4 linked regions of the Homo sapiens genome follow. The gene in region 3 interacts genetically with the main gene of each other region. Each region holds a gene or a part of one and is shown on either strand. Other genes may lie near its edges.

Evidence for each region. A genetic interaction does not mean that the proteins touch.
Region 1: changes in SEC23IP (region 3) and TRAPPC10 together harm fitness less than expected from each alone (positive genetic interaction), as found in Homo sapiens cells (one large-scale study listed by BioGRID).
Region 2: changes in SEC23IP (region 3) and PTAR1 are lethal when combined (synthetic lethality), as found in Homo sapiens cells (one study listed by BioGRID).
Region 4: changes in SEC23IP (region 3) and SAR1A together harm fitness less than expected from each alone (positive genetic interaction), as found in Homo sapiens cells (one large-scale study listed by BioGRID).

The regions. Positions count from the first base shown.
Region 1 is NC_000021.9:44,085,309-44,088,808, reverse strand, and holds part of TRAPPC10 (trafficking protein particle complex subunit 10), read right to left. Parts: intron 2,008-3,500; coding exon 1,849-2,007; intron 1,111-1,848; coding exon 881-1,110; intron 1-880. UniProt on the Homo sapiens protein: Specific subunit of the TRAPP (transport protein particle) II complex, a highly conserved vesicle tethering complex that functions in late Golgi trafficking as a membrane tether.
Region 2 is NC_000009.12:69,753,512-69,757,011, reverse strand, and holds part of PTAR1 (protein prenyltransferase alpha subunit repeat-containing protein 1), read left to right. Parts: intron 1-3,500.
Region 3 is NC_000010.11:119,937,730-119,941,229, reverse strand, and holds part of SEC23IP (SEC23-interacting protein), read right to left. Parts: intron 645-3,500; 3' UTR 1-644. UniProt on the Homo sapiens protein: Plays a role in the organization of endoplasmic reticulum exit sites. Specifically binds to phosphatidylinositol 3-phosphate (PI(3)P), phosphatidylinositol 4-phosphate (PI(4)P) and phosphatidylinositol 5-phosphate (PI(5)P).
Region 4 is NC_000010.11:70,160,515-70,164,014, reverse strand, and holds part of SAR1A (small COPII coat GTPase SAR1A), read left to right. Parts: intron 1-1,255; exon of another isoform or gene 1,256-1,325; intron 1,326-2,083; 5' UTR 2,084-2,099; coding exon 2,100-2,157; intron 2,158-2,276; coding exon 2,277-2,396; intron 2,397-2,945; coding exon 2,946-3,011; intron 3,012-3,500. UniProt on the Homo sapiens protein: Small GTPase that cycles between an active GTP-bound and an inactive GDP-bound state and mainly functions in vesicle-mediated endoplasmic reticulum (ER) to Golgi transport.

The DNA of each region.
Region 1 (3,500 bases), on a different chromosome or scaffold from region 3:
CCGCCAGCGCCAGGGAAGAGTGGGATAACACGGCACACAGCACAGGTGCCACCAGCGCCAGGGAAGAGCGGGATAACACGGCACATAGCACAGGTGCCACCAGTGCTGCGCGCTCCTGCTGAGCTAAGCGCCACCTTCGTGAATGGTGAACGTCTGTGTGAGTTAAGGGAAAGACACTTCCTCAGGTTCTTCAAAAGCTGAACATTACAACATTCGTCTTCAGGCGTGGACTTGTCTGGTGACTCCGTGCTTTGGAAAGACGGCATGCCTTGCCCTTTGCCCCCGCTGCTCTTGGGCGTATACTGCGGCCCCTGGGCTGTTTCAGGGCCCTCAGGATTGATTTCTGGGCTACGAGACTTGGGCACACCCTGAGTAACATGATGCAGCGACACATTCCATGAGCTGATATCCTGTGGCTCTGGGACCGAAATCACATCTTTCTCAAGTAACTGTCAGTAAGTACCAGCACCAAAGCCTAAAATGAGACAGCTCCTCCGTGGCTGAGCTTATGAGTTTCAGTGGACAGACACCGAGGCACACACGACACAGACCTCCTCTGGCCTCGTCACCGGTCTAATGGACATGACCCAAGTTTTACGCCCCTCATGCCTAAGCCGGCCCTAACCTCTTACAGCAAACTCCCTGGCCCCTGGAACTGAGAGGGAAAGGTAGAGCTGGCTTGTCTCTGCCCTTGCAAAAAATGCACCCCTTATCTAAGAAAGGGTGATTCACAGACAGACAGAACTGCTAAACACATGCCCAGGGCATCGGGAATCAGAAGGAGCCAGGCTAACAGCAGGCATCGCTACATCGCCTTTCCCAGCAGGCAGGCGGGCGGCGGACGCCCCACAAGCTAAGCTCCTCCACTGTCCCTACTCACTTTGTGGTCTGTGGTAACCATGCAGCGGCCAGTTCTCTGTTTGTCCTTATGCTTCCTGTGGGGCTCTGCCATCCCCAGCATGTCACTCTCCCCTCCGAGTGCTGGGGCTGAAGGTAAAGAGAGAACTTCCAGTTCAAATTCGATCACGTGGTACGCAGGCGCAACAGGCAGACTGATGCTCGTGACCTTGTCGGAGGACTGAATCCGGAGCGCGGCCTCAGAAGACTGTTCTACGAAGGACAGAAAAAGTCACTTCAAAGCTGTTCCCTCGGTTTCACTTGTCCTTTTCCTTACAGCAGGTGATGGCCCAGCAGTGAGGCCACTGCTCAACCTCTCCCGCTCCTGCGCACCTGGCAGGCAAACCCAAGAACAAGGCCCCTAGGACAGAGCAGCCCTGTGTGAAAGCCGGCAGGCAGGCGCCCAGACCCATCATTGATCTCAATCTGAAGAGAGGAAAAGGGCATTTCCCACGGGGCCCACCCAAGTCCTGTGTAGGTCCCTGCATGACTTTCTCCCGTTCCAGCTCATCCGCAGATCCACCCCCACCCCAGGGGAGCAGGGTCCTCCCCTTCCCCTTCCTCGTGGCTGGGAGGATGGGAGTGCTCAGGGCTCTCAACAGCACCTGCAAGGGCTGCTCTGCTTTTGCTTCTCGGGAGCAGGGCCAGCCCAAGGGGGACAGGGTCTGGCAGGCATCACCATGGAACGTGACCCCAGCCGTGACCCCCATCTCCTAATCCTCAGCCAGACAAGCACTGCTCGGCCACTCAGCGTGTGAACCACTCTCAGTTTATCACCTCAGATGGGACCCCAGCACAGGCATCAGGCCGCAGGGCTCCTATGGAACACGGACTCCAGACACTGTTGAGGGGCGCTCAGCAGGATGGCAGCAAGGCCAGGCTCACCCTCACACCCACACAGTGCAGGGCAAGGTGGGCATCCTCCTTGGGCCTGGGTGGGCGGCACCTCACCTCTCGTGTTGGAGTAGACCACAGCCCTGCTCTCCGCCTGGCACAGGATGAGCATGGCTTCGGCATTGCTAAGCTGCAGGCTGTCTCCATTCTTTATCGTATAATGGCCGGTAGTGACAGTGAACTTGACTCTCTGAGGAATGCCTGCCAGAAGGCTATCTAAAGGAAAAGAGATCGTGGCTCAGCACCGCTGCCAACCGGAAGACAGCATCTCAGGGCCCGCAATGGGGTGAAAGGGGCTCTATTTCTTTTACTATGAAAGATTTGCTCCTTTGGGATCTCCATGAATTCCTTCTACTTCCATTCCCTTCTGCCCTAACTTTTCATCTCAATGATGTGGACTACAGGGTTGAAGGAGAACCTTGCTGGGGAAAAAAGAATCCTGTGAGTCAAGGAGTCTTATACCCATCTTGGTTCAGCAAGTCAGGGATTATGATCATGACTACGTCTCTGAGGGTCACAAAATTTGCCTGCCCATTAGTAGTAGAAGAGAATCACATAATGAGGCTTAAGAAGAGACTGTAAAGAAAACTTGACTGTGCTGGTGCTGCTCAAATATTCAAAACCTTCTCTGGATTTTTCAGCTTCAGGCCACGGGCTTTTGGGTTAAGAACAGTCAGCAGTCAGGTGGCTCCCCCTCACTCCAAGACAGCAATGAGAGGCAGGAGTGAGCTGAGGCCTCTGAGAATCCTGCTGCAGGGAAGACAGAAGGCAGGCAAGATACCAGGACCGGGGGGAGAGTGGACAGAGACAGGGGACACTAGGCAGGAAGCAGGAGCCAGGCCATGAGCCTGGCACTGCAGCCGCTGGGCCATGGGGAGGGCAGGGCCTGCTGGCTGGTGCTTCGGCTCCCCTGCGGGAATCGAGTTCAGCTTCTCTACACAATGTTCCAATGGAAGAATCACTGGAGAGACTGACTGCTGTGTCCCACATCTGACAGCCTTTGCTGGTGGCCACACAAGAGGCACAAATGCAGAAAAATAGGGGGAATGGGGGAATAACAGAAAAATGCCCTTTGTGATTTTTTTCCACGTAGAAGAAACAGGCAAATAAATAAATCGTTGCTAGCCCGAACAAAGGAGACATTCACTCACTCTTGTTCAGCTGCCACATGTTCTTCAATCATTTGTTTATAGCAACTCCTTCCAATTTTAGAACTTATCAGAAAGGACAATAGCTTTGAATTTCTCAAATGCCATGCCAGACGGACAAGTTTAATCAACCCTTTCAAAGGAAAACTTTTTTTTTTTTTAAGAGATGGAGTTTTGTTCTGTCACCCACGCTGGAGAACAGTGGCGCAATCACAGCTCCCTGAGGCCTCAAACTCCTGGGCTCAGGAGGCTGAGGCAGGAGCCTCAGCTGGGGCTCCAGCCTGTAGCTAGGACTAGAGGCCGTGGCGCACGACTACACCCAGCTAATTTACTTCATTTTTTTATTTTGCAGAGATGGGGTTTTGTCATCCTGCCCCGACTGGCTTACCCATGCTGGTCTCAAAGCCTTGGCCTCCCAAAGTGCTGGGATCTGAGTATAGATCCTAACTAAATCTAGTGTTTAGCATTTGAAACGTACTTCTAAGCAGGAAATTATATACATATTTATGAAACCCTGTGGTAGACATTAGCTGCTTCTTGGCCTAATGTGACACTGTAAAA
Region 2 (3,500 bases), on a different chromosome or scaffold from region 3:
TGTGCTGTTCCATATGGTAGCCACTAGCCATAGTAGCTATTGAGCAATTGAAGTGTCCCTAATATGAACAGGGACCACATTTTAAATTTTATTTAATTTAAATGGATTTGTACGTAGTGGCTCCATGTGCCTAGTGACTACTGTGATGCATAGTGCAGGTGTAGATGAGACCTAAGACTAACTGCATGAACAGTAAATTAACCCTCCAAAGTAGTTTATAGTAAAAGTTGGATAGGAGCATGATGAGCAAGTGCTATGGGAGTCTAATAGAAGTGGAGAGGAGGCTGGTTATGTCTCGGATAGGGGTGCTAGTGGAGGTGGGTTTTAAGCCAAGTATTAAAGTCTGGGTAGGATTTGTAGTCTCAGAGGGAGCCAGAGACCTCCACAGGGAGCAGTGAATTGACCTAAACAAGCAAAGTGTGGCTGAGAAGGTACAGTAGGGCCAGATTATGGAGATCCTTGACTCTCATTTAATTTCTTTCATTCCATTCATACATTCTGCAAAAGAGTACCTCCATTTGACAGGCACAATGCTGGTCTCTGGGTATACAGGGTTAAAAACTGGGTGGTTTAATGAACAAACCACACATGGTCCCTATCCTAATGGAACTTTAATCAGTCAACATACAGATTATGAAAAGAGTCATAAAAAGTAAGAAGGGTACTTAGAATAAAAACAGGGAGACCCAATTTAGATTATAAGGTCAAGAGGTTCTTTCTGAGGCAATAGCATTTAAACTGAGTGAGACATGAGGGGTGAAGAAAAGCTGGCTCAAGGATGTACACTTCTAAGGCAATGGGTAGGCACCAGTGAACATTTTTTAGTAAAGAATGATGAAAGGCAATTTTAGATCGTCTGCAAGGTGAACTGAAGAATAGAAAGCCAGAGTCTACTGGGCTTCTTATACCTGATTTTTATTTATTTAAATAATAGTGTAGTATAGTTGTAAAAATTTGAGTTTAGAGTTTGATAGTCTAAGCTGTCAAACTGGATTTGAGTCTTTGCTTGTCGTTTATTAACTGAGTAGACTTAGACAAGACTCTTCCTCTGTAAAATGGGGTCAAAATTCCTACTTTATGAGATTATTGTGCAGAATAAAATATATGTAAAACCTAACCGTGCATGGCAAGTAACAATAAACACTAGTAATTTGTGTAGCTTTTTCTAAATAAGGTCAGTAATATAATTTCAGTGAAACATAAGTTGATAATCTTTGGAATTAATGAGAAAGCCTATAAGGTTTCTGAAATATCTAAATCACCAGGAGAATTTTAATTATCAATATGCAACGGTCAGTTCCTTTAGATATATTTTACTAGCTTTCCTTTTTGGTCATGCTGGAAAGAATTCCAGTTCTTTTGGGGGGTGGGAGCAGAACAAAATGAAAATAACTACTATTTAGATTTAAAATGTTTTTACCATTTCCTGAATCCTTGGACTGTTTTCTGTTTGGTTGCTCCACACTATAGGATTCAGTTTGAGTATTTGGGTACCATCCATCCCTCCCAGAAGGTAAGCTGGTTGATGCAACTTTTGTGGATAATAAGTGGCTCTGTTCTGGTTGATGGTGTTTCTGAGAAGTATAGACAGAGAAGCTGTCTAAACATAAGGAACAAAGTCAGTATCAGTGTTACATGAACTGTGAACATCATCTGGAAGCCAATGAATGGATCCCTATTGTGAAGTGAGGCGCTCAAAGAGATGTATCATACTTTGATCTTAAGTAAATGTGCTGGTTCGTTCCACATTGCTCTGCCTTTGGAGCAGTCTGTGATGAAGGTGACCTAAAAAGTGAGCACCATTAGAACTTGATTGCTGTCCCAAACCATCATATCTTTAAAAATCCTATGATCTTCTTAGTTATGCAGGTAATTGAATACCTTGTTAAATACCAGGAATGTAAATGGCCAGAAACCTAACAGTGTAAAAGAGTGAAATTTATTAGTAGTTCCTCTCATAAGACTATTTTGTAAAGAAATAACTAGAGATATGTTTGATATTTATAGCACATTCATTGCAACCATTAAAAATATCAAAATTGATTATGTGGGAAAATGTTTAATGGGAATTGCTCAGTTTTTTTCCATAAAGGATTATAGAATATGTTCAATATGATCCCACTTTTTGAAAATACTCAGGAAAAAAGGATGTATACCCAGCTGGGCACAGTGACTCACACCTGTAATCCTAACACTTTGGGAGGCTCAGTGGGAGGATCACTTGAGGCCAGGAGTTTGAGACCAGCCTGGTCAACATAGTGGGACTACATCTCTACCAAAAAAAAAAAATATATATATATATATTAGCTGGGCATGGTGGTGCATACCTGTAGTCCCAGCTACTCAGGAGATCTGAGGTGAGAGGATTTCTTGAGCCCAGGAGTTGGAGGCTGCAGTGAGTGAGGATTGCACCACTTCACTCCAGCCTGGACGACAGAGCAAGATCCTGTCTCAGGAAAAAAAAAAAAAAAAAAAAAAAGATATATACCCAAACATGTTAATAGCAAAACAGGGATTACAAGTGACTTTTAGGGTTTTTTTTGTTTTGTTTTGTTTTTCCTGAGTTTTCCAGTGTTTCTTTAGTATGGAATTAGAACTTAAATTTCCAGAAAAATAGAAGGAATTGATCTAAATCCTGTTTTGCTCTTTGTTCTAGTGTCAGGGGTTTGGGGCTAAGTATTAGGAGGCCCAGATTCTTAACTTAGCCACTAGCAATATGACCTTAGATAATCCTCATAAACCTCACTGTACCTCAGTTTCCTCATCAGATGAAATGACAGAGGAATGCAGTCCCTTCCAACTTTAAAATGATTTTGGAAGGAATCCTATTCGAAATTGGCTAGAAAAAAGTGGACTGTGACTTAAGGGATGAGACACAGAAGTCTGAAGTCAAACACACTATTATTTGGAAGCTTACTGACCTACCTATGTTTACAAAGTATGTGTAATGTTTTTTAGAAAGCAGCATAACACTGTGTCTTAGGGTCACATAACTTGACAAAGGCTTAAATTCTTTGCCTCGGCTTTCCATTATTAACCAATGAACTCTACTGGTGGATCTTTGTCTAGCACTTCATAGTTTGCCACATTTTCACATGACATTATTTGGTTTCCATAACAGGCAGGGAAGATACTATTCCTGTGTTTCAGATGAGGATACTGATGGCAAGTGACTTGCCGAATTCTCATTGCCTGTCAGTGGATAGAATGGAAACTAACTAGAACTCTGGACTTCCAATCAAGTACTTTTGTCTTTACACCCTACTACCTCTTCATGTGTTTTTCCCCCTAGTGCTCTACATTATCTGTTAAGACTGTTTTTATTCTCCTCACATGAAAATAGCTGCTAGGTTTCTCAGTCATAAAATTTGAAAGCTGGGTGAAATCTATCCCATTTGCCTTACTGGAGGTATAATACAATTCTACCATTTTACAAATGAGGAAACTGAAGTCTACAGAAGCCAAAATGACCTGATACTGATATGTATGTATATGTGTGT
Region 3 (3,500 bases):
GACTTCTTGAAAATAAGGTGCATCTCACTTCTTTCCACAATCAGGCTCTCAGCAATCGTTTGAGGGATTTATAAAACCTCAGATTCAGTTGGGATATGAGTGATCTTGATTATTTCCTCTTAACAAATATAAATGACCTTGCATTAAGGCAGCTCAGAAGTACAATTCACATTTTAAGTAGAACATAAATCTCTTAAAAATCATATTACTATAGTTTCTCAACAAGTTCATACTTGAATAAAAAGAACATACTGCATTAATAAAAAGAAAAATCCAAGTTTAATAGCCCACTAACAATACTTTTTAAGAAACAGAAATAACCGTTTACATGCTACAAATATTTCTTCATTGATATCACATATAACTTTGACAACTATACAACTAAACTGATCTGTGGAATTTTTCATGGCATCATTTTTATAATTATGTTTTCTCACCTATACTGTCCAAATGTGGTACTGATTTTTTTCACTGTGTTAGTTCTGTGTCCTGTCTTTTGAATCCCTATATCCGAGAATTGTGGCTGAGCAATTGTTAATGAATCACTCTTCTGTCATCCATCACAGGAGCGAAGTGGGAAAGTCCTCTGAGGATTTTCTCAGCAATGGAAGTTGTACTGGGACTTTCTGTGCAGACAAGAAAGTCTTAAAAAGGAAAAAAAAAAAAAACCTCAGTGAACTTTACAAATTTACAGTCAAATACCATGCATCGTTGTCTTTTCTGAAGTAAAAGAACAGACAATCGGCCAGGCACGGTGTCTCACGCCTGTAATCTCAGCACTTTGGGAGGCCGAGGTGGGCAGATCACAAGGTCAGGAAATCGAGACCATCCTGACTAACATGGTGAAACCCCATCTCTACTGAAAATACAAAAAATTAGCTGGGCATGGTGGCGGGTGCCTGTAATCCCAGCTACTCTGGAGGCTGAGGCAGGAGAATGGTGTGAACACGGGAGGCGGAGCTTGCAGTGAGCCAAGATGACGCCACTGCACTCCAGCCTTGGGGACAGGGTGAGACTCCATCTCAAAAAAAAAAAAAAAAAATGGACAATCCAGTGCTCAACTTTACTGACAAACACTGCAAACCGCCTCCAAAGAGCACAGCCTGTAAGCAAGTCCTCAGGCCTTCCAAAGGGACAAGAATGCCCAGGAAACACTCAGTAAGATTAACCAGCATGATTTCTTCATAGCAAAGCCAGTACAGAGAGTAAAAGACACAATTTAAAGTTAGTTATGGCCAAGTGTTGTGGCTCACGCCTGTAATCCCAGCACTGTGGGAGGCCGAGGCAAGTGGATCATCTCAGCTCAGAAGTTCGAGACCAGCCTGGGCAACTTGGGGGAACCCTGTCTCTACCAAAAAATAAAAAAATTAGCCAGACGTGGTGGTGCACACCTGTGGTCCCAGCCTCTCGAGATGCTAAGTTAGGAGGATCGCTTGAGCCTGGGAGTCAGAGGTTGCAGTGAGCCAAGATTGCGCCACTGCACTCACACAAGCTGGGTGACAGAGTGAGACCCCTTCTCAAAAAATTAAAATATTTTATTTTATTTTTTTTCTTTGAGACAGAGTCTCGCCCTGTCGCCCAGGCAGGAGTGCAATGGCACGATCTCAGCTCACTGCACCCTCAGTCTCCCAGGTTCAAAAGATTCTCCTGCCTCAGCCTCCCAAGTAGCTGGGACTACAGGTGTGTGCTACCACGCCCGGCTAATTTTTGTATTTTTAGTAGAGACAAGATTTCACTATTTGGCCAGGCTGGTCTCGAACTCCTGACCTTGTGATCCGCCTTGGCCTCCCAAAGTGCTGGGATTACAGGCATGAGCCACCGTGACCAGCTAAAATATTAATAAAAAATAAAGTTAGTTATCTGCCATGTTAATTTGAGGCTTTTTTATTTTTTATTTAATTATTTATTTTTGAGACAGGGTCTCACTCTATAATCCAGGCTGGAGTGCAGTGGTACGATCACAGCTCACTGCAGCCTCAATCTCCCGAACTCCAGCAATCCTCCCACCTCAGCCTCCCAAGTTGCTGGGACTACAGGTGCACACCATCATGCCCCAGTGATTTTTTTTTTTTTACTTTTAGTAGAGACAAGTAATGTCTTGTCTATGTTGCTAAGCTGGTCTCGAACTCCTGAGCTCAAGCGATCTGCCTGCCTCAGCCTCCAAAGTGCTAAGATTACAGGTGTAAGCCACCACACCTGGCCAATTTGAGGCTTTTCAAAGAACAATCCTAAAAAGGTCTAAAAGGACATGAACATAAAACAACCATTCAGCAAAACTGATCTAAGCTTGAATGAACTATGTATAGAATAATTGTTAACATTTTAAATGGATTATCTTATGACATTAGTATAGTATTAGAAACTTAAATTCTTGCCTAAATTTTACAGCCAAGTGTAAGAAGAAGTAAATAAAACAATTATAGTGAACGAATCATATGTGAAATAGAAGGTTCTGAGTTTTCCATATAAGGTGATGGCAAAATCCTAGAATTACTATTCTTTTGGTTTTGTTTGTCTTGCTTTGTTTTGTTAGGGGAGAGAGCGTCAGGGGAACTTAAATTATTTCGAACTTCATTCGGGATAACTGCAAAGACTATGGTATACTGAGAACTTCTACTGCCAGATATTATGTAAAAAATTACAATTATTAAAACACCATATTTCACCAAATCTAAGACACTGTTGATTGTGACACTTCACTGTTATGTACCATAAAAAGATGCCCAGAAAGGGAGTCTCAAAGGAGAACCCCTCACAAAAAGTGGGGGACTAAACATCTATAGTCTCAATGAGGGATAAAAGCAAGCAACTACATGCAGAAGGGATGGCAAAGAGGCCTGCGCACCTCTTCCTTGACAATGGAAAGAGGGAACAAAAACTCCAATATCTGAACTGACAACCCCATCCCTGCAAATTTTGGGGGCTGAAATCACACTACCAGCATCATCCTAAAAAATCCCAAGCAGAGAAATTAGCTTAAGCAGAGGCAAGTTGGTAAAGCCCCTCCCCCAGTGACCAGCAGAAGAGAATGCACAGCTTCTCAGAAAGAACTCAACTTCCGTTAAGGCAACAGCTGACTTAAATTTTTTTTTTTTTTTTTTTTAAGAGACGAGGTTTCACTATGTTGCCCAGGCTGGTCTCAAACTCCTGGGCTCAAGTAATCCTCCCACAGCGCTGGGATTACAGGTATGAGCCACTGCACCAGCCCCAACAGCAGATTTTAAGATGCATTACAAATTTAAATATGTTAAAATGTGGAAAATAAATGGCTTGAAATCAATGAAGTATCATAGACAAATAAATCACCAGAAGAGATGAGAAAGCCTAGGAAACAAATATTAATTAAAATGTCAAACAACAGCAAAATATTTGGCATATGATAAAAATATCAAACCAATGACAAAAGGGTACATTATTCAATATATGGCACAGACAGAAACGATTATGTAAGAAAAAAGTTAAATTGTTCTCTACACCTTACTCTTCTAAATTACAAAGCC
Region 4 (3,500 bases), about 50 Mb from region 3:
GTCATCACATGGTGAAGTTCTACACCACTAATATAGCCATTGCCATCCTTATCAAACACACAGAATGTTTCTCTAATTTCTTCTTCACTGTCTGTGTCTTTCATTTTTCTTGCCATCATTGTCAGAAATTCAGGGAAGTCAATTGTGCCATTACCATCAGCATCTACTTCATTAATCATGTCCTGTAACTCTGCTTCTGTGGGATTCTGCCTGAGACCTCATTACAGTTCCTAGTTTCTTTGTTGTTATAGTTCCATCACCATCTTTGTCAAATAGTGAAAAAACTTCTTTGAATTCTACAATCTGCTCCTCAGTCAGTTGGTCAGCCATGCTGCAAGTGCTACTGGTTTCCGAGACGCAACCACACAACCACTCTGCTCGCTCACTTGCTCCACTTGGACTGATTTAGTGTCATTCTTCAGGGCCCTAGGATTTTCAAAATGGTAAATGAGTATGGGTCCTAGGATTTTCAGAATGGTAAATGAGTATGGGTCCTAGGATTTTCAGAATGGTAAATGAATATTGGCCTCAACGTAAAGTCACCTTGCATTAGCCCATAACAAGAGAGTCAGCTTGCCCCTTGAAGCTTTGAAGCCAAGCAATGACATCTCCCCTCTAGCTATGAAAGTCCTAGATGGCTTTTCAAATAGAAGGCTGTTTTGCCTACATTGAAAATGTGTTGTTTAGTGTAGCCACCCACCTTCATCAGTTATCTTGCTGCAGCTTCTACATCAGCACTTGCTTTTTTACCTCGTGTTTTTATTTTATTATTATTTTTTATCAGCAATAAGGCTGTTTCATTTTCTTGACGTTCATGGGTTTGCTGGAGTAGCACTTTTAATTTTCTTCAAGAACTTTTCCTTTGCATTTGCAATTTGGGTAACTGTTGAGTGCAAGAGGCCTAGCTTCTGGCTTATCTCAGGTTTTGATGTGTCTTCGTCACTAAGCTTAATCATTTCTAACTTTTGCTTTCAAGGGAGAGACCTGTTACTTTCACTTGGAGAATAGGGAGGCTTGGGGTGGGGGCAGGACTGTGGAGGAAGTCAAGTTTGCTGTCTTCTATGGTTGTGGTTTGTGGCACAACAAAACAATTATACTAGTAATACCAAAGATCACTGATCATAGATCATGATGACAGATATAAGAATAATGAAAAAGTTTGAAATATTGTGTGAGAATTACCAAAATGTAACATAGAGACATGAAGGGAGCACATGCTGTTAGAAGATGGTACTGATACACTTACTCAACTCAGGGCTGCTTCCAACCTTCAATTTGTAAAAAAACCAGAAAACCTCAGGATCCACAAAGTATCATCAAATGAGGTATGCCTTTATATTTTTAACTCCTAGTTCTCTGAGTATCATAGATCAAAAACTATTAGGAAACAAGTTATTTTTGCACATATAAGGATTCTAGACTCTCCTCCAGATTGCAAAATCTGTGTCAAGAAAGAATATTAGTTTCTCTTTACTTTGCTTCCTCCCCTCCCCTTCCATCCCCTCCTCCCCTTCCCCTCCTCCCCTCCCCCTCCTCCCCTGCCCCGCCTCCCCTCCCCTCTCTTTTCTTTTCTTTTCCTTTCCTTTCCTTTCCCTTTCCCTTTCCCTTTCCCTTTCCTTTTCCCTTTCCCTTTCCCTTTCCCTTCCCTTTCCTTTCTCCTGTCCTGTCCTGTCTTTTTTATCAGAGTCTCCCTCTGTTGCCCAAGTGAGTGCAGTGGCACCGTCATGCCTCACTGCAGCCTCAAACCCCTGGGTTCAAGTAATTCTTCTGTCTCACCCTCCTGAGTAGCTGGGACTCTTGGTGTGTGTCATTATGTCCAGCTATTTTTTTAGTTATTTGTAGAGATTGAGTCCAGCTTTCTTGCCCAGGCCAGTTGTGAACTCCTGGGCTCAAGTGATCCGCCTGCCTTGGCTTTCCCAAATGCTGGGATTCCAGGTGTGAGCCACCATGCCTGGCCTGCTTTCTTATTCCCGAAAACAAGAGACTATAAATGTGCATCATGGCTAGGGAACAAGAGTTAACCTCTCCACAATTGTACTGTCATTCAGAAAGCTAATGTTTGCTACTTTCATATTTTATACAGGTAGTAAGCATTAATAATGTCTTTCATCTTTGAGTGGATCTACAATGGCTTCAGCAGTGTGCTCCAGTTCCTAGGTAAAGCCATTTCCTTGAAATACAGGTTTCAAAGTTTGTGCCTTTCCCTCAGTAATTTAACTACAAATAGGCTTTGGTCTGTAGAGAGCAAATGTGTTAACAATTTTTTTCTCTTTTAGGACTGTACAAGAAATCTGGAAAACTTGTATTCTTAGGTTTGGATAATGCAGGCAAAACCACTCTTCTTCACATGCTCAAAGATGACAGATTGGGCCAACATGTTCCAACACTACATCCGAGTAGGTTTGAAAATATCAGGTGACCTTTTGATCTTTAAAGGTCAGTGTTAGGCGTGGAGGATGAATCCCTAGTTGGTGGAGTTCTTTTATTAACTGAAGTCCCAAAAGCCAACTCATACGAGAAAGTTCCCTGTAAGACACACTCAGGTTATGTACTTTCAGATCTAAACCTCTGGAACTTTGTCATTATCTGTTGTCACTGGTCCTGTAAAGGGACACCTCTCCTATACCTACTTCTAAGAAGTGGAAAATAGCTTGGAAGAAAAGAAACCTTTGGCTTTTAGAATAGTTTAAGAACATTTCACCCTTGTATTCCTTTTCTTTGTTGGGAGTGGGGCGTTGCCTGGGCTGGTCTCAAAAATCCTGGGCTCAGATTATCCTCCTGCCCTCAGCCTCCTGAGTAGCTGGAACTACAGGCGGGTACCACCACACTCAACTTCTTGTATCTTTTTCTTTACAAGATGAAAGCATTGATATTGGCTTATAGTACTAGTAGTTGGGGGTTGTTGAGTTGACAAGTTTTTTTCTTCTTTTTAAACAATTTTTCAGCATCAGAAGAGCTAACAATTGCTGGAATGACCTTTACAACTTTTGATCTTGGTGGGCACGAGCAAGGTAAGTGATGACTCAGTGGAAAGCATGTTTATTGACTTATTTTTTTTGTGCCTCCCAGCTCCTTTTAAAAGCAGTGTGTCATTTTTACCTTTTAAATTACTTACATTTTAGAATTAGGATCTTATTACTTTAGTGAAGTTGTTTTATTCATTTATTTTTTTAAGTAATTTCAAACTTGTCAAAAGTTGCATTAAATAATACACAGAAGTCCCCTTCAATATTACCCTATTGAGCTGGGATAAAGTTAGCCATAATGTATAACTATTCATGAACTTTTAAGTATTTGCCTGATATAGCCAAACTCAACTCAAATCTTGACTGAAAATTTTTACAAAGCAGGACAGCATCTTGCCATTTTAATCTTTACTACATTTTTACTTATTAATGTAATTTACCTTGTAACTGGAAAATATGTTAAAAGATATATGTATTGCTTCAACAAGAGTAATTATTTCATCATTTTAACTAGGCTTGCCCTAAGCCAGTATA